Homo sapiens: one gene and its partner. The protein of the gene in region 2 purifies or fractionates together with the protein of the main gene of each other region. This does not show direct contact. Each region holds a gene or a part of one and is shown on either strand. Other genes may lie near its edges.

Region 1 (3,500 bases), on a different chromosome or scaffold from region 2:
ATTCCATAGATATTTGTGGAGTGCCTCTTATCTACCAAGCTCTGGGCCCCGTGCCAAAGGGACTTGGGACACACATACAGTGGGAAGAAGCCCTAAGACTGCTCCTCCGCCCACCCTGGAAGCTCCAGGAAGCAGCCACCTCCACACTAATTGGTCTGTCTGAGCTGGCAAACCTTCAGAGAACTCAGCGAGTCACAACATCCTTGTACAACAGCCGCCGCCCTGGGCTGGGTGTGGACCCGGGGCAGAGGGCAGACAGCGGGCATAGCTGTCCCAGGCATCACCCTTCTGGGCTCAGGGCAAGCCACTCAGACCCACAGCTTCTGCACTGCAGCTTGCATTCATGCTCTGAGAGGTTCATTCTCCCTCAAACACTGCCCCAGCCAGGGCAAGCTCTTTCTGGGGCCAACCAGAGACCCCAGGCTGGTTCCCCACAAAACCAGCACAGCAAGACCTGCCTCGGTGCACAGTCTGGGTCTGGGATGTGAAGCTGTCTACACCAAGGAGCCACCCATCACCTGCCCCAACCCTTTGGTCTCTCGCACACTAGCTTGCCCAGCCCCATCTCCTCAGGATCATGCCTGTCCAGGCTCTGGAGTCACAGGGCTGAAGGAGATAGGAGAAGAAAGCTCCAGCTATAGGGGCTAGATGTCAGTCCCCATAAATCTGCCTTCAAGCATTAGGGTCCAGGTGATACCCTCAGGGAAGATGACGGTCAAGATGGCATTGGGATGGTCACGTCAATCCACACATGGAGGGCTGCCTGAGAAGGTACACTCTGACGCTGGGTCCTGTCAGGCTTGTTTCCCTAGGGTCTGGGTTGGAGTCCTTTCTCCCAGGCGGGCTTGAGCGAGTCCCTCCCCCTTCCTCTGGGGGTCCTGACTAAACCTGGAGACCTAGGTGGGGGTGAGGAAAGCTCCAGGCTGAGGGCGATAGGGATGTCATTAAAGCCAGAGCTGCCTTTTAGGTACCTAACAAATCACCCACCCTCCCAGAGGGACCCTGTCAGCTGGGTCCCCTGAGTGGGGGTGCCCAGGCCATGGTACAAACCTGGGCAGGCCGGGCCTGCCACGCACACAGTCAGGCCAGAGCTGGCGGCGCCTCACCAGCATGGCCAGGAGCAGCAGCACAAGGATCTGAAAGGAGAGTGCAGAGGAGGGCTTGGGGTGCCCAGGCCTCCCCTGAGGGTCTGAGTTTGAGGGCTTGGACTCAGGCCCCAGGATATCCCCTACCTGCCCAGTGCACACTCATGTGACATCTTGGGGACTGGTCAAGGGGTGACAGACATCTGGAAGGTTGGACTTGCATCCTGGTTTGGGCCTCCAAGCTGGGAGAACTCCCAGATAGCTCCCCCCACCCAGGATCTTCCAGGGCCCCCCTTCACCAGCCCCAGTGGGGAACACAGGTCCCACTGCCCAGGCTGGCAGCAGCTTGCAAGCCAGGTTCAACTTGGGTTGGACTCACTGACAGCGAGGCCAGGCAGGCGTGGTACAGGCCGGGTGGTATGCTGGTGTGGCAGGAGGGCACTTCCCTGCAGAGCAAATGAAGGCTGGCTCAGGCCTGCGTCAGGCCCCCCTGGGTGTGCAGATGGGTCTGGGGTTCAAGACTGTTCACACTGAGGCTTTACCCACTACCTCCCTCAACCCTCTGATCCCTCCTACACAAGCCTTCCCAGTCCCACCTTCTCAGGGTCATTCTGGGGCCCTCGTGTCCCTGTGATGTGCCAGCCCCATGCCAAGCTCTGGGGTTATAAGACTAAAGGACATGGGAAGCTCCCAGGGGAAGCAGAGTAGACCGGCTCGGCCTGATCACTTATTCTCTTTTTTTTTTTTCTGGAGGGACAGGGTCTTGCTCTGTCACCCAGGCTGGAGTGCAGTGGCTCGATCTCGGCTTACTGCAGCCTCAGCCTCCTGGGCTCAAAAGATCCTCCCACCTCAGCCTCATGAGTAGCTGGGACCACAGGTGTGCACCACCATGCCTGGCATTTTTTTTTCTGTATTTTTAGTAGAGACAGGGCCTCACCATGTCGCCCAGGCTGGTCTTGGATTTCTGAGCTCAAGCAATCCTCATGCCTCAGCCTCCCAAAGTGCTGGGATTACAGGTGTGAGCCACTGTGCCCGGCTGAGCACTTATTCTTGCTCACCCAGATGCTTCCTGTCCTTCAAGGCCTCCCCTCTCCAGGGAGCCCCTCTGACTGCTCCTGGTCTCACAGACGTCTTCTCAGAACTGCAGTTGAGCACACTACCTGGGTCAAGCAGTCAAGGGTTTGGCCCTGTGATTCGCCCTCTACTCACTGCCATCTGAGGTTGGTCTGTGACTAAAATGATCTCCCCTGGTCCCTCTCTTTTCCTGCTTCCCTCTCATTGAGAGCCTCCATGGACAGCCATGCAGGTTGCCCACTGCACAAAGATGCTCAGCCAAGGGAACGAGCAGGCCACCCTGCTCACCAAACCCAGCACCTGCTGAGCTGAATGCACCTAACTGGGGATCCCTTTCTCTAATTCCACAGAGGCTCCCTATGGCCTGGCAATGGTCCTGCACTCACCCTGGCTGAGCGCAGAGGTAAACCCACAGTGGAGATAGGGGTCACTGAGGACAATGAAACCCTCCGCTTCCCCAGCAGAATCATGTGGTGGAGAAAGGGAGTGAGGCAGGAGTCCTGAGCTCAGGGCTGGCCCTGGCCCTGGGAGAGTAGGCAGGACTGGGTCCCTGGTGAGCAGTAGAGCTCCGGGTTTTCCCAGCTTGGGCCTGGGAGAGCCAGAGGGAGGGTGGCAGCATGGGTGAGGCCAGTGGGGTCTGGTGGGCGAGGGCCTGAGATGGAGCCTGGGCTGCCGCCAGTCCCTGCCTGCACAGAGGGCTTAGCCGCCCACCAAAACGCCCTCCACTGTATGAAGAGAGGCATCAAGGCTGCATTATCCAGGGGAGTGCAGAGCCCTGGGATGCTCTGCTGGGTCAGCTCGGTCTGTCCTGCTCGCTTTCTCTCAGGAAATCCCAGCGGGTGAGCGGTGGGAAAGAAACCAGTCACTTGGTGGAGAGGCAGAGTAAGTCAGCTCTGGGCAGCTTCTTGGCCAGGAGACCAGCCTCTTCCCAAAGTAGAACTGGGATCGTGAGTAGCAGCCACACTGACTCCAGTGTCAGCTCCCCACCTCCAGCTCCAAGGCCTCTCACTCTGGTGCGTAGGGCAGCCCTCCCTCTCAGCCGGCATCTCCCCGCATGACTAGGTCCCGCTCCACCTTTACACCTGGGCCCGGCAGGGACTTGGAAAACTGTCCCTGGAGTAGTTTGACCATTTTCCTATGGACCTTACCCCAAACCACCCCTACCCCCAGAAATGCCCTCCAGGGCCCTGCCTGGGGGAGCCTCTGGCCCTTTCTGTATCACCTGAGGTCCCCATCTGACCTCTCAGCTCAGTGTGAGGGGTCAGATGGGGATCTCAGGTGGCATAGAAATGAGCAAATATTTGGCTAGTGGCTTGTGGCCCCACTTTTTGTGCCATGGGA
Region 2 (3,500 bases):
CGTAACTCTTTCCCTTTATTTTCCCTTATTATTAGGTGAAGAATACACATTCATAGTATATGTAACTATGTAATTGTAATGGTCTGTTTTAAAAAATGGTAGTGTTTCTGTTTCTGAAACAGTTTGCAGGGTAGTTTAGACGGGGAAATTTCGGTCCATTACAGCTGGAAGACATTAGTCTACTAGGTAATGATTTGTAGTGGTGGCATTCTAGTGGTAGTGAAATAGGAAAACATGGTCATCAAAACCCGTCCTCAGTATAACCATTCTACTAGAACTGAAACACGCTACATACACTTCAGCTAACAATTGATCAAACGCATACTGAGACTGTAGTACAATGAGATAAAATGAGGCCACAATGAAAGCAAGAAGTGTATTTAATGATGCTATACAGCAAAATGTCAGATAATGTACCATATCCGTTTAAGTTTGGAAAATAGGGCAAGTAAACCTGAATGCACAGGGACTTTGCAATGGACTTCCAGGTTGTTTGAGTCTTCTGGGTTGTGGTGAGATCTACAAATGGATAGAGCTGCAGATCTAAGAACCCCATGACTAGTACAAAAGAGACTGGATTCTTTAATAAAGCTGAAGGTCATGCAGTGTCTGACTTACAGACAAATATGAGTGTAATACTGACTGAAAGCCCATTCTCTTTTTGCAACAGGACTCTACCTACACATGATCCCTAGGTTATTCTGCATGAGACCATTTTCAAGAAACCAGAGCTGTTTTGGTAATGTAAGTAGTTATCTCTCCCCAGTCTGTCTGATAATTTGGCTTTCACACACCAGCTCTGCAGCAAGTGAAAGTCGTCTGTATTATGCCACTGTGGGGACCAGATAATTAACTTTTACCATGTTTTACTAATCAAAAGTAAAAGTTCCATTTAAGCCCCAATATTTTACCTGTTCCAGGAATGCTGTTTGCCTTTCCAAACTTACACAAATATTTTCATTAATTTGCTCTGAAGTTTTCATGCGTTTAACATTTTCCTCGTTTTCTGAAAACATCCTCTTCTTTTGATAATGGCCTTGAGGAGATCAAAAGATTAGAAAGAAAGATATTTTAAAGAAAAAAACAGGTTCAGTGTGGTGGCTCATGTCTGTAATCCCAGCACTCTGGGAGGCTAAGGAGGGAGGGTGGCTTAAGGCCAGGAGTTCAAGACCAGCCTGGGCAACATAGTGAAAATTCATCTCCACAAAAAATTTAAAATTAGCTGGGTATGGTGGGGCATGCCCGTAGTCTCAGCTACTCAGGAGGTTGAGGTGAGAGGATTGCTTGAGGCTGGGAGGTTGAGGTGGCAGTGAGCACCTTGACTACTGCACTCTAGCCTGGGCAACACAGTGAGACCCTGTTTCAAGGAGGAAAAAAGAGAAGGAAATAGGAATTCTCTAATTTAGAGACCCTCTGAGCAAATGGAAAAACTAAAATGTGACACTGCAGCATTTTTTAGAACATTCAATTGCATAAATACGTACCCACAAACTAACCTTGAAAAAAAATGAGTTATCTTAGGTAGGGTTCTGGTCTCAGATACTCTGTCCCTTTAATCTTACTTAATAACTCAATACACATATACGAACAAAAACTTAACAAATTATGGCATTTAATTCTCTATTTATAGTGACTTAAGTGGTTCTACGTTATTTTATATAAAGGTACTCTTTTTTCATTTTGAGAAGGAGTCTCACTCTTGTCGCCCAGGCAAGAGTGAAGTGGCACGATCTTGGCTCAGTGCAACTTCCGCCCCCCAGGTTCAAGCAATTCTCCTGTCTCAGTCTCCCAAGTAGCTGCGATAATAATAATAGGTGCCCACCACCACGCCTGGCTAATTTTTTTTGTATTTTTAGTAGAGACGGGGTTTCGCCATGTTGGCCAGGCTGGTCTTGAACTCCTGACCTCAGGTGATCCACCTGCCTCAACCTTCCAAAGTGCTGGGATTGTATTCGTTAGGCACAGCGCCCGGCTTCTTTTTTTTTCTTTAAGAGACAGGGTCTTGGATCTGTTGCCCAGGCTAGCCTGGATGGCTCAAGCGATCCTCCTGCCTCGGCCTCCCAAAGTGCTGTTAATTACAGGCATGAGCCACCACACCCAGCCTATTATACATATTTGAAATAGATGATACTGTTATTATTTTTAAGGAATTTTAAATTCATCTTGTTAAATGACCATTCTGTAGTCTAGACAAGAACACAAAATTTATAGCATTAAATCAGTTTTTTTCTATTTCATTAACAAAATACCCTACTTCAAATGAAATTCACTTTTGCTATTTTAATGATGTTATAACCCAAGGACTTCATTTATTATTTGGGGTGCTTCTCTTTCTCTACACACACATATACACATGTGTGAATATATTATCTATCATACTTAGCATGTGATTTACAGGTCAATTCTATAGAAAGAAATAGGGTTGGCTGGGCACAGTGGCTCACGCCTGTAATCCCAGCACTTTGGGAGGCCAAGGCGGGTGGATCACGAGGTCAGGAGTTCGAGACCAGCATGACCAACATGGTGAAACCCTGTTTCTACTAAAAATACAAAAAAAAAAAAAAAAAAAATTAGCCGGGCGTAGTGGTGCCCATCTGTAATCCCACCTACTCAGGAGGCTGAGGCAGGCAAATCACTCGAACCCAGGAGGTGGGGGTTGCAGTGAGCCAAGATCGCGCCACTGCACTCCAGCCTGAGCGACAGAGCGAGACTCCGTCTCAAAAAAAAAAAAAAAAAAAAAGAAATAGGGTTACCAACAATTTTTAAAACTCACTCTTTCAACTAGCCTCCTTCTTAATCTAATAAAACTTCAAAATAAGAAGAGATGTATATGAAATGAACCAAATAATTGCTATAAACCACCTTTTGATATTTTGTACTTAAGGAAAAGTGATTGATTCCTTCTTTGCAATAATTACCCTTTTAATATGGTGGATACCTGTCCCCCACCTCACTAAGAATGGTTCAGAAACAAGATACTGTGAAATAATTGTCATCATTTACCTTTTTTCTGTCTATACTGGTTTGTATATTTGAGACTTTAAAATACCCTAAAGAAAAGTGACTATTTTAATTTTTCTAAAAGGTGCATAAGTATATACTTACTGTTGTTATTAGTGTCAAGTGATGACTGCCATGTTGAGTCTGCACTTTCACAATTTGAAATACTGGTTCTACTACACTCATCAGTTTTCAAAATGTCATCAGCACAGTTGTTAGAAGTGACTGAATTCACCAAATTAGGTGTTTTCTCAACAGGCACAAAACCTGAGTCTTCTGAACATAAAATGTTGTCACTTTGCCTTTTATCATGTGATTCTGAATTGGAGTTTGTTTCTAAATGGAAAACCATCTGGTCAGTTTTCTTGTCACCCACGGTACTGGTTACTGTAGACTCTGGCATCTGAACAACACCACTCAATACACTGGGTGGACAGCAACTGGACTTTAGACTACAAGCCCCCTCATGCTCAAAAAGGGATCTTGTTACATTTGTCTGA

The links. The genes of interacting proteins can lie anywhere in the genome.
Region 1: the proteins of ATF7IP2 (region 2) and STRA6 purify together in Homo sapiens (affinity purification with mass spectrometry; one large-scale study listed by BioGRID and IntAct). This does not show direct contact.

Annotation. Positions count from the first base shown.
Region 1 is NC_000015.10:74,196,288-74,199,787, forward strand, and holds part of STRA6 (receptor for retinol uptake STRA6), read right to left. Parts: intron 1,532-3,500; coding exon 1,465-1,531; intron 1,137-1,464; coding exon 1,051-1,136; intron 1-1,050. UniProt on the Homo sapiens protein: Functions as a retinol transporter. Accepts all-trans retinol from the extracellular retinol-binding protein RBP4, facilitates retinol transport across the cell membrane, and then transfers retinol to the cytoplasmic retinol-binding protein RBP1.
Region 2 is NC_000016.10:10,431,061-10,434,560, reverse strand, and holds part of ATF7IP2 (activating transcription factor 7-interacting protein 2), read right to left. Parts: coding exon 3,106-3,500; intron 1,048-3,105; exon of another isoform or gene 1,037-1,047; coding exon 912-1,036; intron 1-911. UniProt on the Homo sapiens protein: Recruiter that couples transcriptional factors to general transcription apparatus and thereby modulates transcription regulation and chromatin formation. Can both act as an activator or a repressor depending on the context.